2 separate regions of the Homo sapiens genome follow, and region 2 is linked to region 1. The links come from fine-mapping of genetic effects on gene expression. A gene starts in region 1. The other region holds a variant in brackets. All regions are shown on one strand. Distances are between the middles of the regions.

Region 1 (11,069 bases):
GGCTTCGGAGCTGAGGCTGGAAGTGGGGAGGCATCAGGGGTGGGAGTGGAAGCTGGCTCAGATCTGCAAGGGGTGAGATGATGCTGGGGGGTAGGGAGAGCCAGGCAGGGATCCCGAAGCAGCAAAGGACAGTGTATGTAAACCAGTGACAGGACAGTTCCCAGGTATTCTGGGCAAACCACAGTCAAGACCGTGGACATCTGTGGCCCACGCTCCCACACCCCGCCTGCCCCACTGCCCAGAGCACAGAGAGAGTACAGTGCTGAATTTCACTTTACTGGAGGATCCAGGTGACACAGGGCACAGGGAGAGAAGCCTAGGACTGCTACGGGAGAAGCACACCTGGGGCCCTCCCCACCCACAGGCAACACCACAGGCTGCTGTGCCCAGCTCAAGGTACACCCAGCCTGGTCCTCAGTGGGTGGGTCACTGTCCAGGGACAGCCTCCAAGCAGAGGGGAGCACCCACGCCCTGCAGCAGGTCTCAGTCAGCTTCTACATCTGGGTGTCCCTGACATAGGACTGGGACAGTCTGGTCTGGACTGTGAGGTCACACCCAAACCCTCCTATTCCTTCCCAGGGACAAGTGGGGCAGGGCCCCCTGGCACGATGGGCTCCTCACTGCCAGGGAATGGAAATTGGGACGAGGAAGCACACACATTGCCCCAGGGACAAGAAGGCATGAATGAAGGTGGGGTCCCGTGGAGACTGATATTTAGGTAAAAATCGAGCTCAGCCGGGGTTGCAGGAGCTGAAGCATACGGCACGGCACGGCACAGACTCACATACAACTCAAGCGTGCTTGGGACAGCAGGTTGTGAAGCCTCACAGCACCGGCCCGCCTACTCTGGAACCTCCAGGGCAGGGCTGGGGTTTCCTCCCCAGGTCATTTCATCCCCTGTAAGGAGGGACACGCGGCCGGCTTCTGCACTGCCCAGGTGAGCCTCTGTCCCTCACAGTGCCCTTCGGGGCCCCTCTGGCCTTTAATTCACTCAGGGGGTGAACCCAGGGACTTTCAAGTCTTTTAGTAAGGGCTGCAAGGCCAGCGCTGAGCGGTGGGTCAGCTCCACTGGAGAGGGGGCACCCAGGGGAGCCACAGCCTATGGGAGGGGCCAGGGCCCACTCAGCCCAGAAGAACCAAAACTGGATTTTAAGTGAATTACCCCAAATTGAACACCTCTGCAAATAATTAGAATGTTGGGAAACACTGCAGTCTGAGTGACAAATTCAACTTGTGGTCAGGGGCAGGTGGCCTTGGCCTGGGGCTGGTTCCTTTGTTATCAGGGGCGCCCCAGTAGGCAGGGCTGGCATGTGTCTTCCCTCTGCTCCCCCCTCCCCCTCCTCCTCCTCTTTCCCTTCTCCCACCGTTCCTCTCCCCTTTCCTCCTCCTCCCCTTCCCAACCGCCTTCTATCTCTCAGACTTTCCTTTCTGGAATCATCTCTTCCCCTGGCTGGGAGCTGGGGCCTCCCCTGGCTGAGAGTTGCGCCCTGACACGCGCTGCGCGGCTGGTGACTGAGCCTCCACCACAGACCCAGGGCCCAGTCAGACTGGGGTAGGGGCGACAGCGGCCTACAGCACCTGCCAGGCGCAGGCCCCGAGAGCGCCACGAAGAGCCCTGCTCGCCTCTGCAGGTGCCCGGCGTCCACACACACACCCCCTCCGGGGGCAACCCGGGCCCCCAATCCTGGTCCACTTGGCGCGTCCCCATCTCGGCCCTGCGCTGCTGCCTCGGGCGCCCACTTCTCTTTCCTCCTCCCATCCGGGCTTCCTCCGTCGGGATCGCTGGCGCCCCCGGCCTGCGAGGGCCCGAGAGGGGAACGTGACGCTGGCAAAACGCGGCCCGGGCGCGCTGTGAAGCGAGGAGATTGCGTCTGCGGAGGACAGGAAGAGGGGAGGGGAGGGCGGGGGCCACAGGCGGGCGGGTGCCCTGCGGGGCCTGCTCGCAGCCTGGGCGGCTTCTTGGGGGGCCACTAGCGGCATTTAGGGGGCAGCCTCCGGCCCCGACGGGCCTTCTTCCCGCGCGCGGCCTTGGATCCAGTGGGCGCCTGGCCCTTGGCCTCGCCTGCCCTGGCATGGGCCCCGGCGCCCGCGCTCCCCTTCTTCTTCCTGCTTCCTGCGGCGTCGTCCTGGGCCGAGCCCCGGCTCCCGGCTTTCTTCTCGGGAGTGACGCCCCGGCCTCGGCCTCGGCCGCCCGCGCGGGTTTTGCGGGCCCCGGAAGCGGTGGGAGGCGCGCCGGCCGGAGTCAGGCCCCTGGGGGCCGTGCGCGCCCTCTTGGCCCGGGGCTTCCTGGATGCCCTGTCCTCCGGCTCCGACGCCTCGCTCTCGGTGTCCTCCGACTCCTCCTCGGACTGTTCGTCCGAAGCCTCCTCCGACCCCTCGTTGGACCCCATGTTCTCCCGGGCGGCCAGGAGCGCCAATACCTCCCCCAGTTTGCCTTTGGGGTATTTGTACTTCCCGCCTTCCCAGGCGTTTTCTTTTTCCTCCTTCATCACCTCCGCCATGTCCTGGGCAGCCAGGAGCGCCACCAGCTCCAGAAGACCCCCTTCGTCCTCACGGTGCTCGCTCCAGCCCCCGAAGAGGCCACGCCCAGCCTTCTTCGCCTGGGGAGGGAGATCCGGCTGCGCCAAGGTGGAAATGCACTCCCGGAGGTCCCCGTCATCCCCGGCCTTGCGCAGGACCACGGCGTCCACCTCGCGGCCCGCCTCTTCCACCTTCACGCGGGTCCCGTTAGTGTCCTTGGACATGACGGACAAGACCTGTCGGAGGGGGTCTCGCTTGTCTTTCTCGTCGCTCCAGCCCAGCGACTCGATAACAGAAGCGATTTTCAACATCTCCTCCCGGGCCCAGGGGTCCGACGGGTCGGTATAGGCCACAATGGCCACGAACTCAGGATTATCCAACTCCTCTGTTTCTTGGTCCCCACTTTCCTGCGAGTCGCTCTCCGAAGTGTCGCTGTCCACCGGCTCCTCGTCCGGGGTGTCTCTCACAGCCAGCAGGGCCACTAAGTCGGGGACACCATTTTTGTCTTCTTTGGTGTTCAAGCGGATGGATTCGGCCCCAGCTGGCTCCTTCTCTGCCTCTTCTTTCTTCGATTTGTCGGTGACGGTGACCAGAGCCAAGAACTCGCGGGGACCGTCTTCTTCCCCCTCGGAGTTGCAGGGCGCCCACTGCCTAACCAGCTCCCTGGCAGCGGCCTGCAGCGTGGCGTACAGCGCGCTCTGGTCCTCTTCTCCGCTCAGGTCGCCCTGGTCGATCTCCTCGATCACGATGCCCAGGCTCTCGTCGGAAGAGTCCTCGGCCTCACTCCTCGCGGGAGCAGACGGCCGTCCTCCTCGGCTTCTCTTCTTGCCCTTCTGGGTCAACCTGTTGCGTCTGGTTCTGTTTCTGCGACCCCGACGGCCCCTCCTTGGGTTCCTGGCTGCCCCAAGAAGCGAGCCAGCCTGCCCTGTTACCTCCCCAGAATCCTGGGCCTGCGTCTCCGAAGCGGGAGGGGTGGGTGCCTCCCCGGGGGTCCCAGCCTCCGCGGCCTGCGTGGGCCCGTCATCCAGCAGCAGGCGTCTCATCTGCCTCAGGACCCTCGTGTCCTGCGCACGGTCCTTCCACAGAACCCTCCAGACCCCATCCTTGCCTGGGATCTCCCTGGGAATGGCAGCGTGATTGACGTCCTCCACAAACTCCACCAGGGCGGCCTGGGCCTTCTCGTTCATCAAAGCCTTCATGTGTCGCAACCTGAACGTGCCCAGGGGCAGGAGGGTCGGCTGCAGGACGGCTTCGACGTCTGCCTGCTCCAGGCCCTCCGGGATGCCGGTGACCAGCAGGGCCCTGTGCGCGTCCACGTCCAGGCTCCGGCACCAGTCCTGCAAAAGGCTCATGGCCATGGTGCAGCCCCCTTGGCGCTGATCTTGGGGCAGCAGGGAGCCCGAGATAGGGGTGGGCTGCAGCGCACGGTGTCAATGCAACCCTAGAAAGCCACTTGCAGGGCTTAGAGTCCCGGTTCCGGTGAATGTGGCAAGGCTGGAGTGGGGCTCGGGGCTCGGGGGCTCTAGCTGCCTGCTGGCCGGCTGGACGCAGTGACCTTCCCCCGGGACCCCTCTCCAGAGCTGTCTGAGGATCCGCGGGGGGCTTACGTGTCTGCTTTCCAGGACAGCTCCCTCCCTCTCTCCCTGACACAGGCCTGAGTGACTCGGCACCGCAGCCAGGTGCAGGGGGGCGGCGCCGAGTGCACCTGGAGAGGCGTGGGAGGTAGCAGCCGCAGCTTGCCTGGCGCTCGCGCCGCGTCTGAGCGCGCACCCTGGGCCTGAATCTCAGCAGTTCCGCTGCGACGCGGCTGCTCGCGCGTGCGCCTGCGCAGAGGGAGCCGCACACCCTCCCCTGTCCCCCGCCCAACCGTCTCCATGGCAACGGTGCAGCCTTGAGCTGGGGTCTGCGTCGCTGTGGCCTGAGACGCTTTTCTTAAAGGTCCCGATGACAAGGACTTGGGGCCTGGAAGCACCACTTTCATTAACCAGCAAAAAACAAGGCCGAAACCACAGAGGGCCAGAAATCACTCAAGGATACCCGACCTCATTCAGGGGATAGAGGCCTCCTTCCAGAGGGTACCGGCATCACTGGGGGTTACAATTCCCCCTTCCAGGGGCCAGGTGGAATTCAGGATTATATAGGCCTAAATCAAAGGGCACTGGCCTTGCAGCGTAGGACCAGGACTTACTCGGGATACTGGCCTCATTCACAGTATATGGGTCTCAGTATCAAATAGGGGGGCCCAGGCACCACCTGTGAGCAAGACACCATTCAGGGTATATGGGCCTCACTTGCAGGGTACAGGCCCCACTCGATGGGACCGGCCCTCACTCCCATACACGTTCCTGTATTCTGAACTATGCATGCACAATAAATCCTGTGGTTTTGCACACGCTTTGAGCATATGTATGATTGTGAGACCAGGCATGAATTTTGCAAGAAAGCATTTCCCTTGACTGGGACAGCAGACTGGGGCGTGTGAACGTCAGTCATAGCTACTGTAAACATGCATTTGCTTCTCTGTCCCTTGTTGGCCATGAGGCTGTCCCCTACTCTATATGAATCTGGCTCTGTAGACCAGCTGGTAGGTTTATATCTCAACCATCATCCCTACCTCAAAGGGTTTTGTTTTTTTGTTGTTGTTTGTTTTGGAGATGGAGTCTTGCTCTGTCACTCAGGCTGGAGTGCAATGGCACAATCTTGGTTCACTGCAACTTCCGCCTCCCATGTTCAAGCGGTTCTCCTGCCTCAGCCTCCTGAGTAGCAAGGATGACAGGCCTCCCAAGTAGCTGGGATTATAGGCATACACCATCACGTCTGGCAAGTTTTTGTATTTTTTGTAGAGATGGGTTTTTACCATGTTACCCAGGCTGGTCTCAAACTCCTAACCTCAAGTGATCTGCCCGCCTCAGCCTCTGAAAGTGCTGGGATTACAGGATTACATGGTGAGCCACCATGCCTGGCCTCAAAGGGTTCTCATGAGGATTAAAGGGAATAATCCAGGAAAGCATTTAGAAGAGCAGCTGGCCCACAGCTGGTGCTCCATGAAAGATGGCTAAGAGAAGTATTTGTTGAGAACTTACCATTATAAAAGCATCTGTTTTGTTGGTTTGTTTTTGAGATGGAGTCTTGCTCTGTCGCCCAGGCTGGAGTGCAATGGAGCAATCTCGGCTCACTGCAACCTCCACCACCCGGGTTAAAGCCATTCTCCTGCCTCAGCCTCCCGAGTAACTGGGACTACAGGCATGCACCACCATGCCTGACTAGTTTTTTGTTTGTTTGTTTGTTTGAGAGAGAGTCTCGCACTGTCACTCAGGCTGGAGGGCAGTGGCGTGATCTTGGTTCACTGCAACCTCCGCCTCCCGGCTTCAAACCATTCTCCAGCCTCAGCCTCCCAAGTAGCTGAGATTACAGGTGCCCGCCACCACGCCCAGCTAATTTTTTGTATTTTTAGTAGAGACGGGGTTTCACTATGTTGGGCAACCTTGTCTCAAACTCCCAACCTCGTGATCCGCCCGCCTCGGCCTCCCAAAGTGCTGGGATTACAGGTGTGAGCCACCGTGCCCGGCCTAGTTTTGTATTTTTAGTAGATGGATTTTCACCATGTTGGCCAGGCTGGTCTGGAACTCCTGACCTCGGGTGATCTGCCGGCGTCGGCCTCCCAAAGTGCTGGGATTACAGGCACGAGCCACCGTGCTCAGCCCAAAGCATCTGTTAATAAACAAATAAATAGGAAACCAAAACACCTCGAGTTTTTTGTTTTTGCCACCAGGCCCAACCCCTTACTTTTGTGTTTGGATTTTTTTATGTTTAAGGAGAGTTTAACTGCAAGGTTACCACAGCAACTGGGCAAACCGCTTACTCACTCCTATTTTCCCCCACTTTTTCCTCCTCTGATCTTCCTGATCCACAGATGGATGTGATGTGACTCTTTTCTCCAGAGCAGCGTTGTCCAGCAGGAATAGAATGCCAGCCCCAAATTCGAACCGCACGTGCAATGTTAAAACTCCTAGTTGCAGCCAGCCAACACTGACCTCAGGTGGTCCACCCACCTCAGCCTCCCAAAGTGCTGGGATTACAAAGTGTCATTTTTGACATTTGAATCTCCAATCTAGGCTGGGCATGGTAGCGCACGCCTGTAATCCCAGCTACTTGGAGGCTGAGGCAGGAGAATCACATGAACCTGGGAGGCAGAGGTTGTTGCATTGAGCCGAGATTGCGCCACTGCACTCCAGCCTGGGAGACAGAGCAAGACGCTGTCTCAAAAAAACCAAACCAAACCAAACCAAACCAAACCAAAACAAAACAAAAAACGAGCTGCTTTTTCTGCATCTATTGATCTAAAAAAAGAAGAAATATGGTGACTCACCATGTAATCCTGTAATCCCAGCACTTTCAGAGGCTGAGGCGGGCAGATCACTTGAGGTTAGGAGTTCGAGACCAGCCCGGGCAACATGGTGAAAACCTATCTCTACAAAAAATACAAAATTTCCTAGGGGGCCACCTTCAATAAATAGAAAAGAGGGAAGAAAAATGAATTTTAAGAATAGATTTTGGCCAGGCGCAGTGGCTCACGCCTGTAATCCCAGCACTTTGGGAGGCCGAGGCAGGCAGATCACTTGAGCCCAGGAGTTTGAGACCGGCCTGGCCAACATGGCAAAACCTCGTCTCTACAAAAAATACAAAAGTTAGCCAGGCTTAGTGACACACATCTGTAGTCCCTGATACTCAGGAAGCTGAGGTAGGAGGATTGCTTCAGCCCAGGAGATCAAGGCTGAAGTGAGAGATGATCATGCTACACTGCACTCCAGCTTGGGCAAGAGAATGACCCTGTCTCAAAAAAAAAAAAAAAAAAAAAAAAAAAAAAAAAAAAAAAAAGGAAAAGGAAAAAGAAAAAGAAAATAAAGAATATATATTATTTATCCCGAAATATACAAAGTGTTGTCATTTGCACAAGTTGTCAATGTAAAACAATTATTTATGAGCTATCAGACACTCTCTTTTCATAATGAGTCCCTTTGGAGTAGCCGTATTTCAAGGGCTCAGCAGCCACACAGGGCCATTGGGAATTTGTTTGCAAGAATTAATTAGGGGGAGAGAGAGAGAGAGAGAGAGTGTGTGTGTGTGTGAATACACTCAGCACAACTGTTATTTATAACTGCAAGATTGGAAAACACAACAAAAAGAGAAACAGGAAGCTTGCACTTTGTGTGTGTGTGTGTGTGTGTGTGTGTGTGTATTTTAGAGTCAGAGTCTTGCTGTCTCCCAGGCTAGAGTGCAGTGGCATGACCATGGCTCACTGCAGTCTTGAACTCCTGGCTTCAAGCACCTCTCCCACCTCAGCCTCCAGAGTAGCTGGAACTGCAGCACACCACCACGCCTGGCTAATTTTATTTTTTGTAGAGATGGGGTCTTGTTATGTTGCCCAGGCTGGTCTCAAACTCCTGGGCTCAAGTGATCCTCCTTCCTTGGCCTCCCAAAATGCAGGGATTGCAGGCGTGAGCCATCATGCCCGATGAAGCTGACACTTTTCTAAGTCGTTGTGGATAACCACAGGTGAAATTCTTGTAAAAATGAAGATTCATATACCATATAACCCACCCATTTAAAGTGCACAACTCAATGGCTGTTAGTTCATTCAGAGTTGTGTGACCAACACCACGATTGATTTTAAAACATTTTCATCACCTCAAAAAGAAATCCCACACTGCTTAGCCATCACCCTCCAACCCTCTAATCTCCCCCCAGCCCCCGGCAACCACTAATCTGCTTTCTGTCTCTACGGACTTCCCCATTCTGGACATTTCATATGAATGGAGTCATACAATATGTTGTTCCTTTGTGTCTGGCTTCTTTCACTCAGCATCATTTGTTCAGTGTTGTGTGGCAAGTGTCATCCAATACTCTGTTCCATTTATTTAGAGACAGAGTCTCGCTCTGTCACCCAGGCTGGGGTGCAGTGGCACAATCTCAGCTCACTGCAACCTCTGCCTCCCGAGTTCAAGGAGTTCTCCGAGTTCACCTGCCTCAGCCTCCCGAGTAGCTGGGATTACAGGCACCCACCGCCACACCCAGTTATTTTTGTATTTTTAGTACAGACAGGGTTTCACCATGTTGGCCAGGCTGGTCTCAAACTCCTGACCTCAGGAGTTTGCCTGCCCATCTGCCCATCTCGGTCTCCTAAAGTGCTGGGATTTCAGGTGTGAGCCACTGCACCCAGCCTCCATTCTTTTTATGGCTGAGCAATGTTCCATGGAATGGATAAATCAAATTTTCTTTATCCATTCATCAGTTGATGGACATTTGGGTTGTTTGCACTTTTGGGCTATCATGAATATGCTAGGAACATAGGAGCATGATGGATATGCTGTGTGCAAATTTCTATGTAGACATATGTTTTCATTTCTCTTGGGCAGACACTTTTAGGAGAGGAATCCCGGGGCACATGGTAACTCTATGTTGAGTCATTTGAGGGGCTGAAGGGATGCTTTTAGCAATGGTCAACGCAGAGCAAGAGTCTTTCCTACTTCCCACAAAGCCGCTGTAAGTGCTAAAATGGAGTTAGGTTCTGGACCCAGATCATTGTAGACTGATTTTTCAACAGTGTCACAGGCTGGATGGCTTAGATAACAGAAATCTATTTTCTCCCAGTTCCAGAGTCTGGAAGTCCAAGATCAAAGTGCCATCCGGGTTAGTCTTTTACATTTGCCCAATAACCAAGCAAGTCACTTTGTCTCTTCATGGCTCTGTGGCCCCAGTTTATCGTGAGGTTGTGAGGATTTAAGCGGGATGTGTGTGTGTGTGTGTGTGTGTGTGTGTGTGTGTGTGTGTGTGTTGGAACAGTGCCTGGCCCTGAGTGTTACTGGGACAAAGATTTCATTCTCACCGTGGGACAGGATGAGGTGGCACGCTGGAATGCAGAGGGGACTCCCCAGGAGAGCGTCTGGTTTATAAGAGGACCCAAAGGTACAGAGGCTGAATTATGTCTCTTTAAAATTCATATGTTGGAGCCTGGGTGTGGTGGCTCACGCGTGTAATCCCATCATTCTGGGAGGCTGAGGCAGGTGGATTGCTTGTGGTCAGGAGTTCGAGACCAGCCTGGCCAACATGGCGAAACCCCATCTCTACTAAAAATACAAAAATTAGCCAGGTGTGATGGTGAGTGGCTGGAATCCCAGCTATTCAGGAGGCTGAGGCAGGAGAACCGCTTGAACCTGGAAGGCGGAGGTTGCAGTGAGCTGAGATTGTACCACTGAACTCCAGCCTGGGTGACAGGCATGACTGTCTCTAAATAAATAAATAAAATAAAATAAAATAAAATAAAATAAAATAAAATAAAATAAAATTCATATGTTGGGCTGTGTGTGGTGGCTCACACCTGTAATCCCAGCACTTTGGGAGGTTAAGGCAGGCAGATCACTTGAGGCCAGGAGTTCAAGACCAGCCTGCCCAACATGGTGAAACCCCATCTCTACCAAAAATACCAAAATTAGCTGGTCATGGCCAGGCATGGTGGCTCATGCCTGTAATCCCAGCACTTTGGGAGGCTGAAGTGGGTGGATCATGAGGTCAGGAGATCAAGACCATCCTGGCTAACACAGTGAAACCCCGTCTCTACTAAAAATACGCAAAATTAGCCAGGTGTGGTGGTGGGCACCTGTAGTCCCAGCCACTTGGGAGGCTGAGGCAGGAGAATGGTGTGAACCCGGGAGGCAGAGCTTGCAGTGAGCCGAGATTGCGCCACTGCACTCCAGCCTGGGCAACAGAGTGAGACTCCCGTCTGAAAAAAAAAAAAAGAAAAGAAAAATTAGCTGGTCATGTTGGCAGGTGCCTGTAATCCCAGCTACTCAGGAGGCTGAGGTGGGAGGATTGCTTGGGCCTGCCAGGTCGAGGCTGCAGTGAGCCATGACTGAGCCACTGCACTCCAGCCTGGATGACAGAGTAAGACCCTGTCTCAAAAAAAAAGAAAAAAAAAAAAAAGGATAGACTATGAACCCCAAGCCCTGTGCACAGAAGATCTTACAGGGACCAGCCAGGCAGGGACATCAGGATCCCCAACATGTCCTGCCCAGTCCCGCCCTGGGCATTTCCCCTGGAATCATGATCTCTTCTTAGGCAGAGATGAGCCTATGACTGACCAAGCCACTGCCTGTAAGGTTCCAATGGAAACAGCTGGAAGAAAGGGCGTAAAGCGTTCAAGGCCGGGCGTGGTGGCTCACGCCTGTAATCCCAGCACTTTGGGAGACCGAGGCGGGTGGATCACATGAGGCCAGGAGTTCAAGACCAGCCTGGACAACATGGTGAAACCCCGTCTCTACTAAAAATACAAAAATTAGCTGGGCCTGATGGCATGCACTTGGAGTCCCAGCAACTCAGGAGACTGAGGTGGGAGGATCGCTTGAAAAAATTGTTCGAAATTCTTCTCCCCCTCATTTTGTGTTCGAGAAAAATACAAGTGAATCTGCTTAACTGGAAATGGCGCTATTGGAGCAAGGGTTCTCTTTCTTTGTTTTCGTTTTTTTTTTTTCGAGACGGAGTCTCACTCTGTT
Region 2 (11,709 bases), 22 kb before region 1:
GCAGCAGTGTGATCTTGGCTCCCTGCAACCTCCACCTCCCAGGTTCAGGGAGGGTAAGAGCCCAGACCGCCCTTCCAGGAGCCCCTGAAGGCCGATGCTGGAGACATCTGGTGGGCAGATGTCTGGAGGCCAATCCCAGGCCTTGGCCTCCCCAGTAGCTGGGATTACAGGCACAAACCACCATGCCCAGCTAATTTTTGTATTTTTAGTAGAGATGGGGTTTCACCATGTTGGCCAGGCTGGTCTCGAACTCCTGACCTCAGGTGATCTGTCTGCCTTGGCCTCCCAAATCATTAAATTCTTTTTTTTTTTTTTGGAGACAAGAGTCTCACTCTCGTCACCCAGGCTGGAGGGCAGTGGCACAATCTAGGCTCACTGCAACCTCCACCTCCCGGGTTCAAGAGATTCTCCTGCCTCAGCCTCCCGAGTAGCTGGGATTACAGGTATGTGGCACCACACCCGGCTAATTTTTTGTATTTTTAGTAGAGACGGGGTTTCACCATGTTGGCCAGGCTGGTCTTGAACTCCTGACCTCAGGCGATCTGCCCACCTTGGCTTCCCAAAGTGCTGGGATTACAGGCATGAGCCACCAAGCCTGGGCCCAAACCATTAAATTCTCATCAAGGAAGATGGGTCAGATGGAGTGGCAAATGACCACAGTGACACTCATTGTGGGTTTCCTCTGCCACCTCCTGCCCACCAGATGTCTCCAGCATCGGCCTTCAGGGGCTCCTGGAAGGGCGGTCTGGGCTCTTACCCTCCTCAACTGGTGTGTCATCCACCTCCTGCCATGCACCAGGGTCCTCCTCATCACCCGCTTGACCCACCACCTCCTCGGGCTCCTCTGCCCCACCTGCCACTCCTGCTCCTCCTGCCTCATCCACTTGCTGGCACGAGCCCAGTCACTTCTGCTATCATTCTCACCATTGGTGGCACGCCGAGGAGAGCCTTCTGGCTTGGCCTTCGGACCCCTAGAGGTTGAGGCTGTTGCCTCGGCAGGCTGCTGGCCCCGAGGGGCCTTCTGATCTGATGCCTCCCTTCTTGAGCCTGGCCCTTTCTTTGGCATCACCGGCTTCTTCCTGCCATCTTCTGAGTCAACCAAGACGTAGGAGACAGGGCCCAAGCTCACCTTCTTCTTCTTCCTCATGGGAGCGGGGTTCTTGGCAGACACCCAGGCCACGGCCTTCTTCTTTGGTGGGCTTTCATGGCCACCATCTTGGTCTGACTCAGAGGCGCCTCCTGGGCTCTCGGCTTCTGCCCGGGCATCCTGAGGTGGCTCTCTGGGACCCTTCCAGGCACATTTCGCCATGGGCTTCTTCAAAGCCAACTCCTCCTTATTCACACAGGGCTTTCTGCTGCCCTTGATCGGCTCTGAGATCGCCATGCTTTCAGCATCACCCACCTCAGGATCCTCCAAGTTAGCTGTGCTGTTGGAATTGATGCCTTTGGGTTTTTTCCAGGGCACTGCTTCCTGCCTGGAGTTCTTCTTCTGCTTCTTTCTCCTGGAGCGAGACTTAGCTCCAGCCCTGCGAACCAAAGGTTTGGTAGGCTCATGCTGGTCTTCCGTGGCATTCCAGTTGTTGGGGGTCTCTGCCTTTAAGGCAGAACCCACCTCTGCTGCAAGCCCCGGTTCTTTCTTCACCTTCCTCCCTGCTGCTAAAGCCCAGGCTGCCATCTCCTCGAATTCAGCGGCCTCCTGGGCCCTGGCTTCCTCCCGGCTGCGGATCTCGGCATCCATGCAGAAGATGATCTGCACCACTGCTCCCAGAAGCACCCCCAGAGCTTCTGCCCAGTTCTCTGGGGGCTGATGCTGGTTCTGGGACAGGGTGGGGTGGTTGAGCTGGAGCAGGCGGACCACATCCTCCCAGGTGCGCCCCTCGGCATCCAGGAATTCATTCAGATTTTTTAAAAACTCGGCATCCTGGGTAGGGTCTCTACAGACCACTCTCCAGACACCACCCCTTCCTGGGAATTCACGGGGGATGGTGCTCAGATTCACACCTTCACCAACCTCAATGAGGGCAGCTTTAACATTCTCTTCCCTCACAAAAATCTTGTTGAGCACGCGGTACGGGCCCAGTGGGGAGAGGACCCCATTCAAGGTCTCCTCAATTTCTGCCTGCCCACAGTCCTCTGGGATGCCTGTGACCAACAAGGACCTGTGGATGTCCACTTCCATTCCCCTGCACCAATCCTCCAGAAGGTTCATCGCCATGGTCTTGGACATTTAGCGGCTCTGAACCTACTATGTGTAGTAAATAGTCTATCAGGTGGACGTGGGCTGCAGCGGTCTCCAAACAGTAATCCTGCAAGGTGACAAGGGAGCGAGGTCACGTTCCCAGGAAGATGACCAAGCTCACAGATCCTAGCTGCCCCCTCCGCGGCTGGCCTGCAGGAGGCCTGGCGCTTTCCCAACACCCTCCTCCCCAACCCAGGCCCCGGTGCTCACACGTGTCCCTGAATCTGCAGCAAAAGGCCCTAGGACCCTCCCCCGGGCCTGACGCTCCGCCTGCCCAGCCGGGACTTACTTGGCAGATCAGCCTCCGACCGCCCAGCCAGGCCAAGGAGACGCAGTGGAATGCAGCCGTTTCCCAGTCGCTGGCTCCGGCTACCCCGGCGCCGCTGCTAGAGGCAGAAAGGGCCAAGAAGGCGCCGTCCGCCCCCGCTCCGGCCCAGGCGGGTCACGGGGCGTCCAGACTCGATGCCGTTAGCGGCGAGAAGCCGAGGTTGGCGTCGCAGCGCGCGCCTGCGCACTGGCTCCCGCACCGCCGCTCGGGGGTCTTGGGCTGCGCAGGTGCCGACGTCTCCATGGCAACCGGGCGTGGGTTGCTAGGGCTGAGCCCGGCCGGCGCGCCGGCGCTGCAATTGGACCTAGGGAGCCGGGTGCAAGAGTGGCCTGTTCAGGTCGCAGAGCAAGCGGGTCTGGATACACTCCGGTGGCGCCTCCACGGAGGCCCTCTTTCAACCCAAGTGGGCCTCGCGAACGGGGGTTAGGTCGATGAGAAGCGCCAACACCTATGGCTGCACCCACTGACTGTATTATCCTCTGCCCCACCTGTTGGATTCACCCAACGCAACTCTTGGGAGACACTAGAAATCAAGAAAGGAGGAAAACGAGGCTTTAATCTTCTTGGGTTCCTCCAACAGCAGGTGCAGTTCCTGTTGGGCTTGTAGCCTTCTCTCTTACAAGCTGCTGGGTTCTTCCAGGAATTTCCAGAAACTTCTAGAAATTTCTTAGTCTCCTCCCCGACCCCTTCTAGCATGAGGATAATGCCTCGCCTTTTCTTGTTTCCTCAACGTGATTCAGGGCAGGTTCTTGGCATCCTCCAGGCAGGGGACAATGTTACAGCTCAGTGACTGCCCCTACAGAGAAGTGTTAGTCCAAACTGCAACCATTTTGTAAGCCCTGACTATTTTGCAGATCTTGGTCAAAGTGAAATATTCCACGGGGGTTCGGGCCAATGAGAAACATCCTGCCTAATCACCTGACCACAAGGCGGACAAAGGCCCAGCTAAAGAAACATTATCATACCCTATCGTGCAAAGGCCCAACTGAAGAAACATCCCTATCATATTCTGCTGGGAGAAAGTGCAGAGAACACCACATTCCACCAGAACAAGGGCCAGAACCGCCTCATCATGGAACCATCTTATCAACATCCTGCTGGGCAGCAAACCATACTGCTCAGACCCCTCCCACCCATAACTATAAGTACCCCCAGCCTATAAGCAGCAGTGGGCTCTGGCATTAGGCTGGTTACCCACTTCCACAGGTGTCTGCAGTATACCTGAGTTGCTGTTGAGCCGCCTTCTGTCTGTGTGTCTTTAACCCTCACCTTCCCTCCAAAACCTAACAAGGAGGGCTACCCTCTAGGCAGTGTGCTGAGAATAGCACCTCGGGGCAAGGCTGCAGTCACATTTATACCCACTTTTAATGACGTGCTAATTAAGGGGTGGGTTTTCAGAATTAGCAAATTGGCAGTAACTTATGGGTGTTGCCATGGCAATGGTAAACTGTCATGGTGCTGGCAGGCATGTCTTATGGAGAGAGGCTTTCGGTGCCTTTTCCAGGTTTTGGCCAGTCTTCAATGTGATCCTCAGTGGAGTCCCCTGGGCCTCCTACCTCAACCTTGCTGCCCATGAGCAAGAACTTTGTTAATAGTTTATTAATGCCCAGTGCTGTGGCTCACGCATGTAATCCCAACACTTTGGGAGGCTGAGGAGGGCGGATCACTTGAGCTGGGGAGTTCGAGACCATCCTGGGCAACATGGCAAAACCCCGTCCCTACCAAAAACGCAAAAAATTAGCCAGGTGTGATAGGGGTCACCTGTGGTCTCAGCTATTCGGGAGGCTGAGGTGGGAGGATTGCTTGAACCCAGGAGACCCTGTCTCAAAAAAAATAAACTAATTAATTAAGCACTCCTATGAGACTCGGTTGGACTGGCCATCTGTTTTTTTTTTTTTTTTTTTGCCAGTCCCTCACTGATCCACCTACCAATGTCCCTTCCTGGCTGTGTGATCTTAGAGAAATAATTTGACCCCGCTGAGCTTATTTCTTTTCTCTGTAATAGGAATTCTAATAAAAAATCTTCCTGATTTGGAAGTTTTGAAGATTCGGGGGGATCTCATCTGAAAGATGCATGGAAGTACAATTTGGGCCTTGGTATTCAACCAAAATCTGTTCTTTGGGTTCATTTTTGAAACTGACATTTGCAAGGCCAAATAGCCAAATGTTCATTTCACTGTCATCTCTGGCATTCCTAAATTTGGGCATCATCAATACTTGTGTGATTGCCCAAGTTTCCATCATATTTTGTGCTAAAAAGTTGTGTCATTCAAATCGTTAACCTCTGATTATTCACATAATTCACACCGAATATTCCAATAAACACTCTAGCTATGATTAAAGTCTTTAAATCTCATGTGCTTTATATGTTGAAATTCTACATATCAGTGGAAGAATGAGTGTATATTTTTAGGCAGTGGTTTAAAAACATAGCCATAAATTCTCCGACACTTCTATTGAGAAGTGACGATCTGTGTCCCCTCCTCGTGAATCTGAGCAGACTTGTGACTACTTTAACCAATGGAGTTTAGTGGAAAGGAAGCTATGTGGCTTCTCAGACTATGTTACAGAAGGGCACGCAGCTTCTTCCTCATTCACTGGAACACTTTTTTTTTTTCTTTTTTGAGACAGAGTCTCGCTCTGTCGCCCAGGCTGGAGTGCAGTGGCGCAATCTCGGCTCACTGCAAGCCCCACCTCCCGGGTTCACAGCATTCCAGGTTGGGAAGAACAATGAACAATTTTTCTGAGAGATGGCTAATCACAATCCCCCATGGGCACAATGACCTCTTTCTGCATGTAGCCCCCTCCAGCATACCCCTATGAAACTTCCAGTCCCTGCCTTTTTGCAGACAGCCCCCTTCTCTGCTGTGCTGCCCATTGCAACCGTGCAATGTATTTTCATATCTTCTCTAATAAATCTGCCTTTCTTTACCTACAACTGTCTTGGTAAATACCTTTACTGCCCACAACACCCGCCGCACCTAGTCGTACCCGTGACAGTTGGGGGTGACTCAAATGACTGAGAGCTAGAATCATCTGGGAGTTTCTTCACTCACATGTCTGGTGCCTGGGCTGAAATCCTTTGAAAGCTGGGCTCAGCTGGGAAATGTTGATGGAAGCACTGATGTGGCTTGGGCTTCCTCACAGCATGAAAACCAGAGGGTAGATCGTTGAACTTCTTATTTGGAAGCTCAAGGATGCAAGAACAAGAGTGTTCCTGTGAGGCTGGGCGCGGTGGCTCACGTCTGTAATCCCACCCTTTGGGAGGTTGAGGCGGGTGGATCTGGACGTCAGGAGATCGAGACCATCCTGGCTAACATGGTGAAACCCCGTCTCTACTAAAAATCCAAAAAAATTAGCCGGGCCTGGTGGCAAGCTCCTGTAATCGCAGCTACTCGGGAGGCTGAGGCAGGAGAATGGCCTGGCCAACATGGTGAGCCGAGGCTGCACCATGGCATTCCAGCCTGGGGGACAAGAG[C/T]GAGACTTCGTCTCAAAAAAAGAAAGAGAGGCCGGCGCGGGCTCACGCCTGTAATCCCAGCACTTTGGGAGGCCAAGGCGGGCGGATCGTGGGTCAGGAGATCGAGACCACCCTGGCTAACATGGTGAAACCCTGTCTCTACTAAAAATACAACAACAACAACAAAAATTAGCCGGGCGTGGTGGCGGGCGCCTGTAGTCCCAGCTACTCAGGAGGCTGAGGCAGGAGAATGGCGTGAACTCGGGAGGCAGAGCTTGCAGTGAGCCGAGATCACGCCACTGCACTCTAGCCTGGGCGACAGAGCAAGACTCCGTCTCAAAAAAAAAAAAAAAAAAAAAAGTTACTCTAGAGAAGTATTTGGGACCCCCATGGGAATGAGATGCGTCTACCACCGTAACAGGAGGGACCTCTGCATCCAGGACATCTGGGTCCAGGAACGCTAGTAGGAGTGAAGGTAGAAAAATGAAGACGGGCTGGGCACGATGGCTCACGCCTGTAATCCCAGCACTGTGGGAGGCCAAGGCAGGCAGCTCACCTGAGATCAGGGGTTCAAGACCAGCCTGACCAACATGGAGAAACCCTGTGTCTACTACTAATACAAAAATTAGCCGGGCATAGTGGTGCATGCCTGTAATCCCAGGTACTTGGGAGGCTAAGGCAGGAGAATCGCTTGAACCCAGGAGGCGGAGGTTGCGGTGAGCTGAGATTGTGCCATTGCACTCCAGCCTGGGCAACAAGAGTGAAACTCCGTCTCACAAACAAAAAAAAAAAGTAAATTATTTTTTGAAAAATAAATATAGGTTAAAATAGTGAATTTTATGTTATGTGTATTTTACTACAAAAGTGAACAAATAATGCGTTACAGAATGGAGAGATGGGGGGCAAGGGAGGGAGAGAGATGCCTTCAGCTTTGCCTCAAAAGCCAGGTTTCAGCTTTCTGCAGAGCCAATATTCCTAACAGTCCTGGCTGCCCCTTCAGGAATGCCACCCAACCCCAGTGCATGAGCACAGAATCAAAGTTCTGGAACTTTCTCTTCAAAGAGAAAACAAAACATCTCAGTGTGTTTGAAAATTCTGCTAAGGATTTGTCAGACCAAAAAAAAATAATAATAAAAAAATAAAAGAAGAAGAAGAAAATCGTCAATCTAGACAGGATAAAAAGTAAATTTATACCAGCAGTGGATTGTAAAACATCATAACTAAAATGAAATGGAATGGATGTTTGCTGAATCTCAGAGGCTTTTGCTATGTTTGCCAAGTAGTTTTACAAATGCGGGAGCTTGTTTGTGATCCAGGCTGCAGACAAAGTTGCTGCAGTGGAAACTGAGTCACACAGTGACTCAGTTAGAATTAGACACTGTCTGTTTTTTCTTCTCTCTTTTTCAGTTATTTATTTTGGCATGCAAGGGAATGACAGACACTGAGTTTTGATAAATACTGGATTTTTAAATGCAATAATCCTCCAAGTGACTATCTCTGGGGAGAAGAAGAGGGCAAGTCATATGGGAGGTAGGACACAGCCTATTTAAACAATAATTTTGTTTAAAGATGTGTAAATAAATTTAGCATAGTATTAAGATTTAATAAAGAATGGCAAGGGATACATAAGGGTTAATTATATAAATCTCTTTTTTTTTTTTTTTCTGAGACAGAGTCTTACTCTGTCCCCCAGGCTGGAGTGCAGTGGCGCACTCAGCCTCCACCTGCAGGGTTCAAACGATTCTCCTACCTTAGCCTCCTGAGTAGCCGTGATTACAGGCACGTGCCACCATGCTGAGCTAATTTTTGTATTTTTAGTAGAGAAGGGGTTTCCCCATGTTGCCCAGGCTGGTCTCAAACTGCTGACCTCAAGTGATCCGCCTGCCTCGGCCTCCCAAAGTGCTGGGATTACAGACATGAGCTGCTGAGTCCAGCCAATAATGCTAAAAAAAAAAAAAAAAAAAAAAAAAAGGTGTAAATAAATTTAGCATAGTATTAAGATTTGATGAAGAATGGCACGGGATGCATGAGGATTAGTTATATAAATATCAATTCTTTTTTTTTCGAGACTGAGTCTCACTTTGTCACCCAGGCTGGAGTGCAGTGGCGCGACCTCGGCTCACTGCAGCCTCTGCCTCCTGGGTTCAAGCAGTTCTCCTGCCTCAACCTCTCAAGTAGCTGGGATTACAGGGACCCGCCACTATGCCTGGCAAATTTTTGTACTTTGTTTTGTTTTGTTTTGTTTTAAGACGGAGTCTCGCTCTGTCACCCAGGCTGGCTTGCAGTGGCGCGATCTCGGCTCACTGTAAGCTCCACCTCCCGGGTTCACGCCATTCTCCTGCCTCAGCCTCCCAAATAGCTGAGACTACAGGTGCCCGCCACCACGCCCGGCTAATTTTTTGTATTTTTAGTAGAGATGAGGTTTCACCATGTTAGCCAGGATGGTCTCGATCTTCTGACCCCGTGATCCGCCCGCCTCGGCCTCCCAAAGTGCTAGGATTACAGGCATGAGCCACCACACCCAGCTTTTTTTCTTCTTGAGACAGGATCTTGCTCTATCTCCCAGGCTACAGTGCAGTGGCAGGATCACAACTCACTACAGACTCAACCTCCTGGGCACAAGCGAGCCTCCTGCCTCAGCCTCCTGAGTAGCTGGGACCACAGGCATGCACCACCACGCCCAGCTAATTTTTAAAATTTTTTTGTAGGGCCAGGGTATCACTATGTTGGGTAAGATGGTCTCCAACTCCTGTCTCAGCCTCCCAAAGTTCTGGAATTATAGGCATGAGCCACCGTGCCCAGTCAATTCTCTATTCTTGACTTTGAGTTTGGAATATTCCACAATTTTTATTTTATTTTATTTTATTTTATTTTATTTTATTTTATTTTATTTTATGAGATGGGGTCTCACTCTGTCACCCAGGCTGGAGTGCAGTGGCTTAATCACAGCTCACCGCAGCCTTCATCTCCTGGGCTCAGGCAGTCCTCTTGACTCAGCCTCCCAGGTAGCTGGGACTACAGGCATGTGCCACCACACCTGGCTAATTTTGCATCTTTAGTAGAGACAGGGTTTCTCCATGTTAGTCAGGCTGGTCTCGAACTCCCGACCTCAGGTGATTCACCCGCCTCAGCCTCCCAAAGTGCTGGGATGACAGGCATGAGCCACTACACCTGGTTTTTTTTTTTTTTTTTTTTTTTTTTTTTTTTTTTTTGAGACAGAGTCTTGCTCTGTCTCCTAGGCTGGAGTACAGTGGCGCACTGCAACCTCTGCCTCCCAGGTTCAAGCAATTCTCCTGCCTCAGCCTCTCAAGTAGCTGGGACTACAGGCGTGCACCACCACACCTGGCTAATTTTTGTACTTTTAGTAGAGATAGGGTTTCATCATGTTGGCCAGGCTCTCAAACTCCTGAGCTCAAGTGATCCTCCCGCCTCAGCCTCCCAAAGTGCTGGGATTACAGGCATGAGCCATTTCATTGCATCTGGCCATGTTTTTGCCATTACTTTCAATGGCAAAAACTGCAATTAATTTTGCCTCAGCCTAAATATTATAAAGGTACAACTATGTGTGTATATGTGTGTGTGCGTGTGTGTGTGAAGTGGAGTCAGCTGCCTGCCTGCTCTCCCATTAAAGAGCCACAGTGATTGCTAGCTGATTTAAAAATAGTTCAAGCACCCTTAACAGGAATCATTACAGTGGTTTCCATGACAACACGATGTGCTGTGGTTTCCAAGGCAACAACTGGCACTGTGGTTTCCATGACAAAGCATCCCTGCAGCCCCAACCCTCCCCTCCATCTCTGCACTTCCAGTTTAGGGTTCTCCTTCCATCCTCTTCCGCTGTGTTTCACCTTTGAGTTTTTATTTTGCCCTGCTGTGTATGTTCAGTGAGAACCCACAGAGTTTCCATAAACACTGAACCCAAAGAAAGTCCAGGGGGCTCTGGGATCCCGCCTAGATGTTTCCTCCTGAGTCAGTTGCAACAACCCATCATGGTGGTTCTGTGACTCAACCTGGCTGGCTCTGTCCAATTTGTTCTGTGAGAGCCCCTTCTTGCTGCAGAGTTTCCTTTTTTAAATTATTTTTTTTCTTTTCTTTTCTTTTCTTTTTAATTGAGGCAGAATCTTGCTCTGTCACTCAGGCTGGAGTGCAGTGGTGCGATCTCAGCGAGGATTACAGGTGCATGCCACCATGCCCGGCTAATTTTTGTATTTTTAGCAGAGGCAGGGTTTCACCATGTTGACCAGGCTGGTCTCAAACTCCTGACCTCAGGTGATCTGCCCGCCTCGGCCTCCCAAAGTGCTGGGATTACAGGTGTGAGCTACCATGCCTGGCTTTATTTTCTATTATATCTACGTGTGTGTGTGTCTCCTAGGTCACAGCAAAATGTATTTCTTATCACGGATCATGATCAAACACATGTGACAGCCACTGCCATAGGTTAATTACCGAGTCCCCTATGGATGGCTATGCAGGTCGTTCTCTATTTTCCGGTCTTTCAAATGAAGAGCTGAGAAGGGCTGGTGGCTGATGCCCTACAGACATCTATGTTGCTTGGATTCAGGTGTGACTTCTTAACTTGTTTGAAAATATGGCCGGGCGCGGTGGCTCACCCCTGTAATCCCAGCACTTTGGGAGGCTGAGGCGGGTGGATCACGAGGTCAGGAGATCGAAACCATCCTGGCTAACATGGTGAAACCCTGTCTCTACTAAAAAAAAAATACAAAAATGTAGCCGGATGTGGTGGCAGGCGCCTGTAGTCCCAGCTCTTCGGGAGGCTGAGGCAGGAGAATGGCGTGAACCCGGGAGGCGAAGCTTGCAGTGAGCCAAGATTGTGCCACTGCACTCCAGCTTGGGCAACGGAGTGAGACTCCGTCTCAAAAAACAAAAAATAAATAAAATATGATGCTTTTCAAAAGTTACAGTGTCAGCTGGTTGCAGTGGCTCACGCCTGTAATCCCAGCACTTTGGGAGGCTGAGGCGGGCAGATCACTTGAGGTCAGGAGTTCGAGATTAGCCTGCCCAACATGGTGAAACCCCGTCTCTACTAAAAATGCAAAAATTAGCTAGGCATGGTGGCCCATGCATGTAATCCCAACTACTCAGGAGACTCAGGAGAATCGTTTGAACCCGGGAGGTGGAGGTTGCAGTGAGCCAAGATCACACCACTGTACTCCAGCGTGGGTGACAGAGCAAGACTCTGTCTCAAAAAATAAAATAAAATAAATGAAATAAAATAAAATAGCCCGAGATGGGAGGATTGCTTGAGGCCAAGAGTTCAAGGCTAGGCAACATAGGGAGACACCTGCCCTCCCACCAACCCTGTGTCTATTTGTAAGATAAAAAATTAAAAACGGCCGGGTGCAGTGGCTCATGCCTGTGATCCCAGCACTTTGGGGGGCCGAGGCGGGTGGATCATGAGGTCAAGAGATCAAGACCATCCTGGCCAACATGGTGAAACCCCGTCTCTACTAAAAATCCAAAAATTAGCCAGGCGTGGTGGCAGGCACCTGTAGTCCCAGCTACTCGGGAGGCTGAGGCAGGAGAATTGCTTGAACCTGGGATGTGGAGGTTGCAATGAGCCGAGATCGCGCCACTGCACTCCAGCCTGGTGACAGAGCGAGACTCCGTCTCAAAAAACAAACAAAACATTAAGAACATAAAGTCCAGTAGTTTTATGCCACAATC

What was found.
Region 2: its variant is fine-mapped to the expression of PNMA8B in whole blood (TOPMed, PIP 0.91).

What each region holds. Positions count from the first base shown.
Region 1 is chr19:46,491,588-46,502,656 of GRCh38, forward strand. It overlaps PNMA8B (PNMA family member 8B), which reads right to left and starts at 4,280. Exons shown (of 1, transcript NM_020709.3): 1 at 1-4,280. The coding sequence starts at 3,878. The coding sequence ends at 1,971.
Region 2 is chr19:46,468,809-46,480,517 of GRCh38, forward strand. PNMA8A (PNMA family member 8A) reads right to left here and starts at 2,755. Exons shown (of 3, transcript NM_018215.4): 1 at 2,529-2,755; 2 at 925-2,306. The coding sequence starts at 2,227. The variant C/T (reference allele first, on the strand shown) is at 6,046.